Linked DNA regions of Homo sapiens. The protein of the gene in region 2 interacts with the protein of the main gene of each other region in a pairwise test. Each region holds a gene or a part of one and is shown on either strand. Other genes may lie near its edges.

Region 1 (4,891 bases), on a different chromosome or scaffold from region 2:
GAACTTTGATTGTACCTTCTATTCAACTATGGGTATAAAACCCTAGCCAGTGAAAATAAATGAAAATAAAACTACGTTATAGCATATAGATTAAAAAAATAAAAGTGTGATCATGTGCAGATAAAATTGCTCGTTATATAGAACACCCAGAAATAAATCAATAGTTGACATAATAGATTTACATATATAAAATCAGTGGAATAAGTAGATATAAAATCAAAATGCAGACATCAGTTGTATTTCTATTTATAACAACAAAAATTACTAAAGGGAATTTTAGAATCAGGATGCCATTTACAAAAGCATAAATGTAAAATACCTACATTTCTGTATGACTTCAATCCCCCAAAATACAAAATACAATAGAGAGAAATTAAAGATAACACAGTACATTGAAGGAAACACTTTATATTGATTAGAAAAGTCAATATTATAAAGAAGCTAATCTTTAAAAATTACTTTAGAGAATAAATGCAGTCACAAATAATCCCAGGAGAGGCTTTTTTTTTTTTTCTGGATAGCTTTATTGAAGTGTCGTGTACAAAGCATACATTTCATGCACTTAAAATGATTAAAAATCAATGATGTTTAGTATATTCGCAGAGTTACAACCATCACCACTACTGAAATTTAGAAAGTTTTCATCACGACACAAAGTAACGTTCTATCAGTTAGAGGTCATCTCCTATTTCAACCTCCCTCAGACATTGGCAACCACTATTCTACTTTCTGTCTCCATGGGTTTGACTGTTCTTGGTACTTCCTATAAGCTGACTCACATAACATGCAACTTTTAGAAAGGCTGAAAACCACAAATACCATGTTGAGCAAAATGAGCCCGACACAAATGCTAGGATGTCTGTACTTTAGTAATTGTGTGTATCCTGTTTCAATAATTGATTTAGAATTTTCTTATTAGAGCAAATAACATAATTCATTTTAAGATTTATGCAATCATAATATATTTCTATTTTAAGAAATATACAATTTATCTGATGCACTGCAAATGCAAACGCTTTACCTCTAAAGCTTATGCTTACAATGATATATTATTGAAGATCCACACTGGGCTGATTTAAGTCGATTTACTTGTAGCACTGCACAGTTAAGTTCAGCATTATCTGAGTCTTTTATCCTGTAATGGAGAAAAATCCATATTCTGTTACATTTTAAGCAAATGATTCATGAGACGAAAGCATTTTCCATGTACTGTAAGAAAATAATTTCATGGAAAAGGGTAATTAAATTTTTCATAATATTAGTAAGAGTCATTATTCTGAACACTCAACAGAGTAGTCCCCCTTCATCCACGAGGGATATGTTTCAAGATTCCAGTGGATGCCTGAAACGGCAGATAGTGCAGAACCTATAGAGAGATTATGTTTTCTCTACACATTCATAACTGTGATAAAATTTAATTTATAAATTAGGCACAATAAGAGATTGACAACAATAACTACTAATAACAAAATTATAGCAATATGCCAACAGCACTACTCTTGTGCTTTGAGGATATTCTTAAGAAAAAAAGTAAGTGTGGCTTTTTAATAAAAACAAGCACTGCAATTCCCTGATAGTCCAGCTCGAGCTTGTCCAACTCGCTGCCCACGGGCCGCATGTGACCCAGGACAGCTTCAAATGCGGCCCAATACATATACGTAAACTTTCTTAAAACATTCTGTGATTTTTTTTTTCTTTTTTTTGCTCGTCAGCTATCGTTAGTGTTAGTGTATTTTATGTGTGGCCCAAGACTCTTCTTCTTCCAATGTGGCCCACAGAAGCCAAAGATTGGACACCTGATAATCAAGAAGGTTACTAGCTGACCAATGAGCGGTTGAAATATATGGACTACTATGGTCTATTGTAAAATATTTATGTCAGCATTTCACTAACTTTCCACATCTTTCTTCATCTCTATGATTCCACATAGATTTATTCATATTATTCTTCTGAATTTATCCTTTATATATATATTGTTATATAGCGCCATACAAAACAACTTACTCATGTTTGAAAGCCAAACCATTCATTGTCACCCATGGATGATGACTGCTGTTACGAAACACACCAATCCATGAGGATGGTGAAATGATGGACAGAAATTTCTAAAAGAAAAGAAAGAATTTTCACTTAAATAATAATTATGAAAACATTACAAAAACAATATATTAAATTTGAAAACCACTATTTGCAGTGCCAAAAACTTTCATAAATGTTTATAATTTTGATATAAATGAACCCGTCAATGTTTATACTTAGTACTTTTATTCTTCTCATGTTAATAAAGAAGTTTTAATTCTTGCATTATAATAGTTACCCCAATTGACTGAATAAACACAGTAAGGATTTAAATAAGTCTCCTGATACTGTGCATTCATTCCTCCAGATACTGTGACTAAATCAAACTATTTTTGTGCTATATTTCTCAGAGTTGGAGATTTAGAAGAGAAATTAGAGGTTGTGATTCAGAAATAAATGACATGGAAGCTACATATTGGGTTTTCTGGGTACCACACCATTCTTTAACTAGATAAGCCCTCACTTTTTTATCTGATTTGGTTTTGGTGGAATAACAGTGATCCTGACCAGGTGGTGTAGACTCGTCTCTCTCTGCTACTCCCTACTAAAAACAACTATAAACTCTGGGATTAATGAAAGACAAAAGCAATGGAGAACTCTGAAAGGTGGAAAGAGAAAGATGAAATTGTCTGGGACCCTAGCATCAGGGATCAACCAAGTGTCCGAGCGAGCATGTTAAGTCCTCCACACGACAGAAGAAGGTGACCTAGGCCTGCTGTTTCCCTACACCCAACCTGGCAATAGGAGGAGGCCCAGCAAAGCTCACTCCTGTTCTGTATTGAAGGGGAGTCCCCTCCGCAACAACAGGCAAGGCTGGTACCACTGGCAAGGATGATCTACCAGGAGACTTGCTACCAATACAGCCAGAGGAAGTACTTCCTTCTCATACCAAGAGACACCAGAGTGGATGTGGGTGAGGAGGATCAGCAAAGGAACCCAATGACTACCAGTGCACCACCCAGGGTCCTCTTTGTCCCTGAGGGCATGAGACTCACTTCCCCATCCAGAGACACAGGATTGAATGGATTCTTAGTGTTCTTTGTACATACTACAGCAGTGAACAGTAATAAACGACAGATAACCGCAATAATATGGAGGAATTGCATAAATATCAGATAGGAGTGAAAAACACAGACATGAAATTCACAGTGTATGATTCCCTTTATATAAATTCAAAAGCAGGTAAACGTTATTTATAACATTAAAAGTCAAGACAGTGTTTTGGAGAGGAGTCAGGATAAGTGATGAGGGCATACACAGGGGTGGAACTACTAGAGCTGGAAACTTTTATTTCATGATCTGACTTGTATCACAGGAGTTCATTCACTTTGTGATCAATCTGCATGACCAGATCACATCATGCCCGATAAAATTAGATAGCAAAATGTATTGTGGATTGAAAGCATTTCTAGAAGCATGGTTTTCCATGAAAAGCAAAAACTGAAAATAATCAAAAGTACATTAGCAGTATATGAATTTTAAAACATTATTAAGTCAATCAATTAAATACTACATAAACTTGAAAACATATAAGCTAAATGTATATACCCACACATATGGATGATTTCTACAAATATATTATCGACCGAAAGAAGCTTTTCATAAAGTGTTTAAAACATTTACATCTTACCATTTCTTCTTCATTATCTATAGAAAGCAGACTGGAGTTCTTCGAAGTACAGGCCAGCAAACTCTCTTCCCAAGTTCTTCTTTCCTTACCAATGTAGTAACAACTGTTGGAATATGTAATCCACTCCTCAGGACAATGGCCACAATGACGTGCTAAATAAAGATATGAATTACTATCTAGACCAATATGAATTTTTAAAAATGAAAATTAGTTCACATATTTGCAAACATATAAACCTATACGTATGCAACATATCTATACATCTTCATGGGCTGGTAAATATATAGTGTCAAAATACCCAGTCACTTATACACACATGCGCAATAAAGGGTCAGCCTTTCATCTCCTAATTGTGTTCCCATATAAAGCAAACCAGCAAACAAAAATCCACTCTATACATGTCTTGAAAAATCAATGAACTAATCTGATTTTTAAGGAACAATAAATAACTTGTATCTTATCATATTATAGCAGTAAGAATTTGAACACAACAGATAAAAAGAAAGCATAGTGATTTTACTTATAGTTGATGACAAGTGAATGCCTTACTCTAATTTTATTTATGAACACTTATTGCCAAATTTTATAATTTTTCACCCAAAATTTTATTTTTGTACAGCCTAAGATCAAGAAAAAATAAACTGTACAATATTAAAACTTTAAAAATTATTATATACCTTTCTGAGTTCTTGTATTCAGGGAAGAATTGTTGTGCCTCTGTATTAATGTAGCTAGAAAAATTAAAGTAATCTTTGTAAAAAAATTAGCATCTAAATCAATCATAATAATTTTAAGTTTTTGTTTGAATTTTTTTGTATTATTTAGAGTTAGAATAATATGGAATAAAATTGATTTTAAGAAAAATTTGATAAAGTAATGGTGGTTTTTTGGAAAAGTATTTCATAGATCTAAAGAACCAAATTTCACCATCTCATATAGTTCTTATAATTCTTGATTTAACTACTTTCAAAAATTAATTTCTATTTCTCAGTAAGGTTTTTCAGACTCCTAGAACATATTTTTGAGTTATGAAATCCAAATATATACATACGATTGCATCAGAAGCGAATACTTTCAACAATTATTCTTTCATTTATTCTTTGACAAATTCAGAATAATCATTCCACATTTAGTCCAAATATATACATTACAATGAGAACTCTATTCCCTGAAAATATGAAA
Region 2 (7,429 bases):
CTCCTTTCCACCATTCTACAAGTATAAATATCAGAAATGGAAATCGGGTTTCCATGATTTTTTTTAAACAAGCATTTTTTAACTGCTTCATATGATATTTTTCTCCTCTGGGTGTTTTCAAAATTGATTTATCGGTGGAAGGATTTTCAGTTCCAGAATTGTGTTAGGTATTAAAGTCGGGCTAACAGGTCAGTTATTCCCAGGTACCTTCTATTTCATTTTCTCAATTATCCTAATGTTCTAAGCTGCTCAATCCTCAAACTGTCCATGCAGTAGTTTCCTTTCTAAAACGTAGCTGTTGAACAGAGAAAGAAGAGTTCCAAAATGACAGCATAAAAATATAGAGGAATGATTTGTATAAACTAATTGGCACTTTGTATGATATTTTAAAGGCATTAAGTATTTCAAACCCATTAAGAAAATTGTTATTATTGTACAAGTCACTTTAAAAGAATAAATTTACCCACCAGGCTGTTAGAGCCAAAGTATTTCCTTTGAACAGTGAATAATCCATAGTGATGTCCTTATACTTTTATACTGTAATTAGAATTAATAACTTAAATGTTGCAAATGTTGCTTCTAAATAGAACTACTGCTGTGTATTTTGTGAAGCTGCTCCTTCTTAGGGTTGGAGATCAGCTTTTTGGCAGCATGATTCATCACCTAGCTATATGCTTTGTTCTTACTTATACAGGAAAGGATTAACAAAATTTTATAGGGCAATCTATAATCCTCACAAGTATTAAATTCTGTCAGTGTTTTTTTTCTTGCACATATATTTCCACTTCGTTGCAGCATTCTCGTCTTCATTTTGAGTGCTTCTCTATTCTAGATGTATCAGCTACTAATTGAGCATTTAGCATTAAAACAGATGTGATATATACAGAAATGCATTCAAGAAAAGATCAAACAAGGAGGCTGCCAATCTGCAGTTGGACTTTAACCTGCTTGCTTTTAATAGCTCTTAAATATAGATCCCAATGTATAGGCTTGGTGTGAATATCATTAAACCTTTCCCACTGTTCCCTTAAGCTTTGAATGTTCACTGATCTGTGAAGATAGCTGAATGGATAAATAAACTTAGACCTGGCAAATCAGAGAGATTTTAGAAATAGAGCTAATCTTGACTTTTTTTTTTTTAAAGCAAAGCTTTATGTTGCCTGATATATTTTTTTTAAAACAAGAAGACAGAAATAAAAATAACACACATAAACTGACTAGCACTTTTTTAAAATGAATTAAAAAGTGGCGGGGTTATTAACATGTATTCTAGCCTGCTTGTCTTTCCACCTTCATTTCCCATTTGCTGGTAGTTGCATGAATTTTATTTGGCCTGAACCCCAGAGTGCAATAGAGAGGCGATGAAGAGAGAAGGCACTAAGGGAGAGGGGCCTAAGGGCTGAGATATATGTTCCCGCCACTCATTTTAATCCATGTGTTCTTTTTCTGAACCTTCCTTTCAGTGAGTGTTCAGCTGTGTTCAATGTTGCCAAAAAGCAAGGAAGATGAACACTAAAAGGACTCTTTGGCTTGAGGCAACCAGAAGCCACTAGTGACCTTGTGAAATCAGGTCCTGTAGAAAGGTGAGGAGACAGTTCAGATGTCTGCTGGGTGAGCCATGAAGGGGGAGGTTGGGAAGGTTAGGAATTGGAATTTAGTGGAAGTGGGCCAGTCTGTCAAGAAGCTCAGCAACCATCGCTAGAAGTGGAGCTCCTCAGGGCCCTGTTTACCAAGGAATCTCCTAGAGTTGTTCAGTGCACAACCTGAACAAACAGAAGCCAGGACCCAGTATTCGTGTTGTTTATTTTTTGCAACACCTAACACAGAACATATCTGACATTGAGAGCTAATGAATGATCCCTGGATAAGTGAAAGAAAGGACATACACAAAGGAGAGAAGAAAAGATTTTTACAAAGAGTCTATTGATAAGAACCATGTTTATATTTTGAAAGTTATATAGAGTTTTTGTTCAATTTATTTTGAGAATTAGGCAGAGTTAGACAGAAACACAGTAATAATAATAATACAGCCTTGTACTGGCATGAAGACTGATGGCTTATAGTCTTTTTTTCAGATTCATTATCTATTTCTTCATGGAAAAGTGCATCATAGGACATTTAGGAAAGAATTGCAAATTAAAGAACATTAAAGGTGAGGCTTGAAATAAAAATGTAGAAGTTTTTAAAGTAGATTTCTAACTAATAATAACTCATGATGTTGTGTAACTAAAGAGAAAGACTAAGTTACACCCAGGAGTGGCCCTGGATCAGAATGGGTAAGTAGAAGCACAGCATATATAGCCATTTATACATCATAAAATCATCCTGTTTCATCACAATTCCGTGTGTATCTGAGCTGTGTACAGCTCGGTATAGTATTCTAGGCTTCCTATTTAATGTTGCACCAGAGAGCAGAAATTTTAAGAATTCAGAGAAGAGATATAAAGATTATTAAAAGCGAAAGAAATAGGATCTAATATAAAATGTTCAAATGGAACTTTGGTAAACCCTTATTCATTGTTTTAGAATTCATGATGATTCACATAATATAGCTGCATAAGGGGAAGGGCTGATTTTAATAATTTCCATTATAATTATCTTTAAGAAGAAAGGTTTAAATTTAGCTCCAAGCATAACACCAGATCTTCATCAAATACTCTTTGGTTTATCTAGTTCGGCTTCTCTGAAAGGAAAGGGCATTCTAACAAAATTTTGGAGTGGTTAGTGCCTGACTTTTTGCAGCAAGGACAGAATGAAAAGAAATGCGCCAACACATTTAGACTAAGTAAGCAGCAGAGGAGTTTGTTTAAACAGAGGTTGTCAGAGGAAGTTATGGCATCTACTTCTCTGGAGACTTTTTAAAATAGGCCAGGCACTCATCTCTCTGGGATGGTTTCAGCCTGCAGAGTAGCTAGAGGACAGCCCCAGGCCTTTTCAGGTTCCCTTCTCCCTCTACGAGTCTGTAGGCTAAACCATATCCGAGAAGGCCTCTTTGGCAGGGTAAGCTACAGTCACCCAGGCTCATGTCTAACTATGATATTTTCTCACCGCATGGAATGATAATTATAGGAAGGAGGGTGAGGTCGGAAAGATTCCTCAACCACACTCTGTTGGCATTGCCAAAACAGGCACTCCCTCTGCCAGAATTGACTAAATGCAAGAGGGATGCCAGTTAGTACAGGATGATCGTGCTCAGTTGGATTTCATGTGTCCCATTGTCTTACGGTGTGTGGTATGTGTGTGTCTGAAAATAGGGTAAGTAAAATGAATTGGAAAGAAAATTCAGTTAAAAATTAGGAAAACAAATGGGGAAAGAACCTGCATATTGTCTTGAGGTTAGACTCTAACATCAAGCATTCGATCCTAACATTTAGCATTTGATTTGAAAGGTTCCTTTGGGGTCCGAGGCCTATCCTATCCAGGATTGTGGTCCGTTGTGAGCAGATGGGGTTTCCCTCTTAGAAGATGAGCTTGGTTCCAGTTTCCTAGAGCCTTTGGGTAATGGCCGGTTGCTCACAAGAGCTGAGGAGACAGCATAGCTGACAGGCACAGTCAGAGGCAGCTTTAAATATCACGCACCCCATCATTTGGTGGGTGGGTGTGTTGTCGCTAACTGTGCCGCCACTTCAACAAAGAAAGTGGTGAGTTGCCAAAAAACAAGGATGCTCCGTCTTAAGCATTAGGCTGAATTCTTCTTAGAGAAGTGTTTTTTTAATGAAGAATTTTATCCTAAAATATTTTCCAAATTTACTTATCCAACGAAAGTAATTTAAGCATTGTAGCAAGTAACTAGAATCTGCAGAATGAGAACAACTTTCTCTCACAAAAATCAATCTTCTTTATTCATCGAGTGGTCTCAGGTGCCCTGTGTGGGGTGGGGGCTTTCCCAATGCCACAATTATGCAGGCTGCTCAGAGAGACACTGGACCTGGCAACCAACTGCCCAGCTAATTTACAAGCAGGTGACAGGTGGTGAAACTATGATTTTGATATTTTTAAATGGTTCTTTCCTTCCCATAAATGCTGCTTTTTGGAAAGGTCACTTTAGTTTTCTTTAGGAAAATGAGCCTTTTCTCCCTCTCCCAAATGCTAAGTTGATGCCCTTCCCCAGAAGTCTTCCTGTTAATTGAGTTGGCCTGAAGGTCATCAACAATAATCAATATGAAGACTTGCTGCGACGTGCTAATTGACACTCCCAAAGAGGAATAGTGTCAACAATCAATAAAGAGGACAGAGCACTGGTAGATTTATGGCTTTGATTTTGAAAAGGTATAGGAATGCCTGTGATGTTTCCCCACCCCCCAACCCCGTACTCCTTTTGAATGTTAATGCTTTCTTGAAGATGATTTCAGACACACTGCTAGGATACTGCCTCTACTCGCTGAAGCAGAATCCTCTGAAGAGTTGCTGAGGCAGAACTGAAATCATGGCTCACCTCAAAGAAGCAGCAGTATTGGCCGTTAATGATGCCTCACACAGAAAGACGATGCTCCTTTAACTCGGGGTTTTAATGGGAAGTTTCTAAGCCTGAAACAACAGCTTTAGACCTGGGGTGTGCCATCAGCTGCCTTGCAGCTACCACTGTCTACTGCTTTCACACAGCGTGGTCGGGAAGAATGGAAACTAAAGAGGCTTGTAACTACCTGTAACTGTTCCACCAGGAAATGGATCAAGTGTTTGTTCAGCCAGAGCCAGGTACTTGACCCAACCTGTATCTTTGACGGGCTAATTAAATGCTTTTCTCTAACTTTACAATTGATGCATGAGCAATCATCGCATACATGCCTTTCGGATCATAGTTGTGAATTTAGATCTAGCTGTTAGATAAGTCTAATTAAACAATTGCTAGATAAAGTTAAGAAGCGAGGGGGTAAAATGTAATGATGCCTTTATTTTTAAAGCATGGTTAAGTTTATAATGTTATTGATACTGGATGAAGAAGTAGTAAAACAGGCTTTTTTTTCTTTCCTAAGCTGCAGTAATTTATTTCTGAAAGCTGTTTGCCCATTATCGTATTTTTTTTTTCAGTCACCTAAAACGTCCAACCTTCCAAAATGTAACAAGGATGTTCTGATTTGTTTACAAAGGATCACAACTCAACCACTCATATTGACAGCGTTGACTGTCCCTGGCTGATAAGCTGTGTGCAGCACTATCCTTTTGAGATATCAGCAAGTAGCCGTTTTCACTATGAAACACACAAAGAAAGACAAAGAAAACCAGGTGGAACAGTAGGGCTTATTATTTGAAGTTAAAAGTTCCAGTTCGTTAAGGGTGCCTTCTGATACCACCGATTCCTGACTAGGCACCCTCATGGTGTTTTCTGATGTTCTCAGCTAGGCAGTAGCCTTGCCCTGCAGTCCCTTAAAAATTCCTCAAGCAGATATTAAGAGGAAGATGAAGATGGGGAAGAAGTAAAGCTGAGATTGGGGCTGAGGCTGAAGACAAAGGTCTCCTGCTGACCCAGAGCTTAAAAGCAGCAGTGAGTTGAGAATAACAGGGTCCACTCCCAGCCCAAGCAGACGTGTCTGCAGGCTGACTTTGCAGAAACAAGCAGAGAACAGACTTCCCAGTGCAGCAGTGGGGGCTGGCAACAGTTCTGAAACTGCCTGTTGACATCTGTAGCTGAAGACATCCTCATGTTTATGAAATCATTGTTCGTAGGCTTTCTAGTAGACTTGAGTCTATGTTTTGAGAGTATAAAATATATTTACCCTTAGCCCCCCTTTGAATTTTGAAGCATCAGGGCTATTGTATTGGAACAGGAGGGCTGTACTTGGAAAAAAATATAGAGATGTTGCCGTGTATATGAGCCAAAAACAAGGGGAGTGGGAGGATTTAAAATCTATGAAACACCTAGAAAGAGCCAGGAAATCTTTACCTGAAGTTCTTTGCTGGTAAGCAAGAGGGCCATGAATTCTTTGAATTTATATGAAATATTTTGTATCTTTGTGTGTATATCCTGAATGCAAGTTACTGTTCACTAGAATAATACACAGAATTTCTAAAAGATTTGTAGGGGAATAATATTTGCTTATGTGGTGATTCTGTTGCTTAGATAACGAGGTGGCTTATACAGATGACTCACAGTTGTGGTGGGGATGGATAATAGGATCATTTGGGAGATTTACACATCTAGGGTGGGTGAGTGGGTTGGAGAATGAAATGTACTTTGAGAGACTACAGTTATACAAACAGGAATGCAGCCCAGGCTTCCTTTAGTGCTAAAAGTAGAGAGGGATTCTATTTAGGCTCAGTATCAGGATGTGTATTACTTGAATCATTCAAAGCCATGTTAACATTTCCACAGTTAACTTCAGAACTGTTGCAGAATAATGCAGCATTTTGAGTAAGTTTGTCTCTGTTGGTCACCGCAAATTCAGTCCTGCCTAGCTAGGCAATTCCGTTCCTGTTAAAGTCTAAAGATTGGTCTCGCTAGTCTGCCAGATAAATATAAATAAGGTTGATAGTATATCTTTGCAGGATAAAGTGTCCTGTCTATCACATGTGAATGGAAACTGGACAAGCCCAAGAGTGTCCTTGCTCAATGGATGGGCTGTTTTGACACCTACTTTTGAAACCACGTCAAGTCACGTAACTAGGTTTCTGATCCAGAAGTTTTAAAAATTAGGTACTGCAATTATGTGGTTTAGGAATATTTAAAATACAGACAGCATTGCTTCACTGCACCCTACAGGCCGTTAACACCTGAGGGATGACACCTTCAATTCATTCCAACGTGCCAGTGAAAAACTAGGGATCTACCATCATTTGGCGTTGGGGTGGTAGGGGGTGGTGCTACCTTTTTGGTAACGATTTTTATAATTCTGGGCAGTTTATTTATAATTTTCATACCTTAGTGTGCTTGATCACATAATAGAAATTAAAAATAAATAACATTTTGCACAAAAATGGTGTAAAAAGAAAACACTCATTCATCCCCACCTACTTATCAAATCCCCACTATGTGCCAGGCAGGACTACACAGGTACTGCAACTATTAATTAGATCATTGCACCCTATTGCAAAAGGGTGGGCTCTTGAGTTGATGACCTGTAGAATCAAGTCCCTGTGTGTGGCTCCACAGAACAAGGTGTCCAATGCACTTAAGTAATTCTGTCGCTGTCACTTAAAAAAAAAAAAGAAAAGAAACATGTCATTGCTTTAAGATACATTTTCTTCAGAGAAAGTATTTTTTCCTTACTGTGAAATTGTATAATGAGATGCTAATGAAATAAAATGTCCAAGGGATCCAAGCCTGAGAAGGGTACATGTTGACATTAATAGTTTTTGTGTAAGACATTTGGATTCAGGATATTTTAAATGGCTGCCCTTCCCCACCAAAAAGTAGATTAGGTAAGAAAGAATTGACCTCTTAAATAAAAGGGTAACTTTCAATTTCTGGCTGATTTTTATATTTCAGATTCCA
Region 3 (4,614 bases), on a different chromosome or scaffold from region 2:
CACAAGCCCATCTAATTAGCGGTCAGTTACTATCCTTCAGGAGGGCATCCACAGAGCTGCCAGGTGTATGATTTTATAGGAGAAGCAGAAATCTAGGTGTTTATACCAAAGCTTCTGATTTTAAAGGCGGCCACTAATTCCGTTTTTTTCACAATGTAATATGGGGCAAATGAAACATGTCTTTGAGGTCACTTTGGCATTAAAGAGACACCAGACTGGAGCCAGGTGACGGCCCCTCCCACAGCGGGAGAGCCAGGGATTGATGGGTGGAAATGGGAGAGGCACCTTCACAGACAGAAAAGCTCAGCCAGGGGACTTCCTGGGTTTGCTGGCCAGAGGTACCACTCCCAGTCCCACCACAGCTGCCCCCTCCTCCAGATGCTGGTTCCGTGAAGGGACAACCATGTACGCCCTCTATATCACCGTCCACGGCTACTTCCTCATCACCTTCCTCTTTGGCATGGTGGTCCTGGCCCTGGTGGTCTGGAAGATCTTCACCCTGTCCCGTGCTACAGCGGTCAAGGAGCGGGGGAAGAACCGGAAGAAGGTGCTCACCCTGCTGGGCCTCTCGAGCCTGGTGGGTGTGACATGGGGGTTGGCCATCTTCACCCCGTTGGGCCTCTCCACCGTCTACATCTTTGCACTTTTCAACTCCTTGCAAGGTGAGGCCCCTGCACCAGGGAGGTGATGGGCTGTGTTGTCTGTCCCAGGAGGTATTGGGAGGTGGGGAAGAGGGTGGTTTGCAAGACACAGGACTCTGTTCAGGCTAGCTGAAGTCAAGGATGTTGATTTCAAATACTCAGAGCAAGGATCCAGGGCAGCAAAGTTTGGCTGCTGTATTAGTCCGTTTGTGTTACTAGAATACAAAGGAATACTCGAGACTGGGTAATTTATAAAGAAAATGGGGTTAATTGGCTCATGGTTCTGCAGGCTTTAGACAAAGCACAACACCAGTATCTGCTCCTGGTGAGGCCTCAGGAAGCTTCCAATCATGGTGGAAGATAAAGGGGAGCCAGCGTATCACATGGCGAGAGTGGGAGCAAGGGAGTGGGGAGGCACCATGCCGTTTTAAACAGCGAGATCTCGCATGAACTCCAAGTGAGCACTCACTCATCACCAAGGGGATAGTGCTAAGCCATGCATGAGGATCCGCTCCAAGGATCCAATCTCCTCCCCTCAGGCCCCACCTCCAACATTGGGAATCACATTTGGACATGAGATTTGGAAGCAACAAACATCCCAGACATATCAGCTGCCTTCATGGGAGCTGCTACCAGAATCAGAAAAAGCCACCCAAACCAAAGCAGATACGTTCTCTATCTTTTTCCTGGAGCTATGGAGTCTCTCACCTAGTGTCTGTGGAAACTCCTTCATTCTCTCTCCACTTACCCTTTACTACCCATGGCCCCAAATTGTTACCCAACATGGCTGCCGTAACCCTACCTGACCTTGCAAGTTGGGTGTCCATCGTCCATCTCTGGTCCAATCAGCTGCGACCAGAAGGGCAGAATCATGTGATATGATGTCCACATGACATGGATGGGATCTCCAGGGATCTATGGAGGTAGGAAGGAAATGCTTGCTGTATTTGTTACTGGCCCCCGCAGGGCCCTTCCTCTGAGATCCCAGCAAAGGGGTAAGAGCAGTCCATGTGCTATGGTTTATATGTGTTCTCTTTGCTCCTTACATCCACAGCCCAGAGAGGCATCACAGTCTGACTGTGAGAGAAACAGCCAAGACAGGAGTGACGAGACTCAACCTGTTCAGGGAAGTCACTAGAAACCCAGGCGTCCTAGATGCAGCGGGTATAAGCCCCCAAGACCAGGACTGGCTCCCAGCGCCCCATGAGAGATGTGTGGCTTAGTGGCTAGGGCCAGGCAGCCCTGGGTCCAAATCCTAGCCCCATCCCTGACCCAGCAAGTCACTCAGCTCCTTCCGTCCTCATTCATCGCGAAATTGGGATAATCCCGTACTTATCTCACCAGCTTTTTTTTTTTTTTAATTGAGATGGAGTCTTGCTCTGTCACCCAGGCTGGAGTGCAGTGGCACGATCTCAGCTCACTGCGACCTCCACCTCCTGGGTTCAAGTAATTCTTCTGGTTTCAGCCTCCTGAGTAGCTGGAACTACAGGCACATGCCACCATGCCCAGCTAATTTTTGAATTTTTAGTAGAAATGGGGTTTCACCATACTGGTCAGGCTGGTCTCAAACTCCTGACCTCAGATGATCTACCTGCCTCAGCCTCCGAAAGTGCTGGGATTACAGGCGTGAGCCACTGTGCCTGGCCTGCCAGATTTCACAATGAACAATGACAATGCATATGTGGGAACTACTAGGTCTTCAATATGTGGGAACTATATTAATAATCATAGAAATTATGACTGTAAGGCCATCTGAGGCTGTCTCCAGGTGGAGAATCATGAGTCCATGCCTGGAGAATCCCAGGGGTTGATGGTTGGGGAGAAATGAACTTTGAAACTATAGCTGACATCGTTATTCTTTCAGAGGTTACCTTAATATGTAAGCCTGCACACTTCACTCTACTAAGTTTCCACTGGGTCTGAGTTATTCTGTATTTCTCTCTTCCTCTCCAATACAACAGAGCCCTTGGTATACTTGAATTGCCCATTGAACTCTTCTCAATATTTGTCTTGCATATAGAGGTTTAGTTACAGATTTCCTTGAAACATAGAGTTTTTCTAAGTCATGTTCTGTACTTACTATAATTTCTTTCACCCCACACTTTCCCTTTTCCTCTTGCTGGAGTGCCTCCCATAATAATCCTTTATAGAGGGAGTGATGGTTGTTTTGTATGTCTGAAAATTCCTCTATTTTGCTCTTTCTTTTCTGTAATAGGCATAGGTAGATATTTTATTTGAAGGTCTCTGTTTTTCATTTCCAAGATTTCGATTTGGTTCTTTTTTATTTCATTTTTGAAATGGTTGTGAAATGGTTGCATTTTTGCCTTTCCCAGCAGTTCTTGAGTGGTTACGGTGGGTCTCCTCCCTCTCAGCAGCCACCAGCCCAGGCTGCCCCACTCTCTGCCCACCCCTTTCCAGGCTCACCGAGGCCTCTCCTTCCTAACAGGTGTCTTCATCTGCTGCTGGTTCACCATCCTTTACCTCCCAAGTCAGAGCACCACAGTCTCCTCCTCTACTGCAAGATTGGACCAGGCCCACTCCGCATCTCAAGAATAGGAAGGCACGGCCCTGCAATATGGACTCAGCTCTGGCTCTCTGTGTGACCTTGGGCAGCTCCGTGCCTCTCTCTGTACTCCCTCAGTTTCCTTCTCTGTACAATGTGGCTGGGGAGGGAGAGGATGGGACCAGGTTGGACCACGTGGCATCAGAGGTCCCATCCAGATCCAACTATAGGTCCAAGAGTCCACGTAAGCAGGTTTGCAAGGCTCTAAAGTTCCTATAGTCCTGAGACCCCCTGCCAGCAAAGAGTGACAGTCACCTCCATGCCCTGCCCTCATTGCAAAGCCCTCACTCACCTTCTGGTCTCAGCAAGGGAGGAGAGTCTGTTGCTGGCATAGCCCTGGAAGGAGCCCCCAGCCTCTCCCCTCCTCCTCCTTGTCACTGGCCTCCCACAACTCCCCTTCTGGCTGCCTGTAACCTTGAGGGGCATTCAGGAGGCCAGCGTTCCCTCAGGCACTGGGGGTTTGTTTTGGGGGGTGGGAGTTGATCCTCCCACCCAGTCTGCCCCTGGTCTCTGCCCATCCAATCAGAGCCCACCCTCCTGGAAGAGACCCCCGTGTTCAGAGTGCTGGCAGCCCTGCACGTGTCCAGGGACACTGCATTTCAAAGAACCACTGAGTGGGTGAGCTACCTTGGGCAAACCCCCCACTCCTGACTCTGACTGCCACGTGGGTGGCCCGACCTCTGACCTGCTGTCATCGTAGAGGTAGAAAGCAAACAATCTGGGGCTCAGCACACCTGGGGGTGCTCCCACTCATTCAGTGTGTGGGGCCCCTGAGCAGAGGCTGGGCATTGCCACTAGGACCTGAGCTCCTAGAGAACAAGGACCTGGGTGGCCTCGCTTACTGTTCCAGCCCAGGCCAAGCACAGGGTCTGGCTCGTGGCAAACCTTGAATAAATATTTGTTGGCTGAATGAGTGGATGTATGAGTTTGGCACCAGCCTGGCAGATCCCTGAGCCAAGGGGGGTGTCTCAGGCCAGACCTAGGTTGGGCAGGGTACTTCCAGCAGCTGGGGCTCCATGTCACAATCGCATGCAGGTTTCTCAGTAGGAAACAAAAAGAGGCAGAGATAGCAGAGATGGGGTAGAGATACAGAGATGGAGAGAAGGAGAGAGAGACTTAACAGACAGGCTGACACAAAGAGGGAGAACGGTGGCGGAGAGACAGATGCAGAGAGATGGCAGCCCCACGCCGGCTCCAGCGACCCCCCTCCTCGGGGGGAGCAGTGAGTGTTGACATCATTCCCCTCCCTGGAGCCTCACCGCACAAGTCCATCCCTCACTCTACTCACAACTTACCAACCATTCTCCCTACCCGGCCCCCGACCCTCTCCAGGGAGCTCTGTGGACTGTCAAGCCCTGTCTGCAGGTGAGAAGTTACTGTCACTGTTAGGCCTCCCCCAACAGCCCTGGA

The links.
Region 1: the proteins of CTXN3 (region 2) and KLRC1 interact in binary tests that used the Homo sapiens proteins (3 or more experiments, as listed by UniProt).
Region 3: the proteins of CTXN3 (region 2) and ADGRG3 interact in binary tests that used the Homo sapiens proteins (3 or more experiments, as listed by UniProt).

The regions. Positions count from the first base shown.
Region 1 is NC_000012.12:10,445,528-10,450,418, forward strand, and holds the end of KLRC1 (NKG2-A/NKG2-B type II integral membrane protein), read right to left. Parts: intron 4,441-4,891; coding exon 4,387-4,440; intron 3,862-4,386; coding exon 3,710-3,861; intron 2,106-3,709; coding exon 2,005-2,105; intron 1,136-2,004; coding exon 1,024-1,135; 3' UTR 501-1,023; downstream 1-500. UniProt on the Homo sapiens protein: Immune inhibitory receptor involved in self-nonself discrimination.
Region 2 is NC_000005.10:127,644,694-127,652,122, forward strand, and holds the start of CTXN3 (cortexin-3), read left to right. Parts: upstream 1-4,388; 5' UTR 4,389-4,695; intron 4,696-7,049; exon of another isoform or gene 7,050-7,128; intron 7,129-7,429.
Region 3 is NC_000016.10:57,685,265-57,689,878, forward strand, and holds the end of ADGRG3 (adhesion G protein-coupled receptor G3 isoform 1 precursor), read left to right. Parts: intron 1-378; coding exon 379-662; intron 663-3,087; coding exon 3,088-3,197; coding exon of another isoform or gene 3,198-3,423; 3' UTR 3,424-4,114; downstream 4,115-4,614. UniProt on the Homo sapiens protein: Adhesion G-protein coupled receptor (aGPCR) for glucocorticoid hormones such as cortisol, cortisone and 11-deoxycortisol.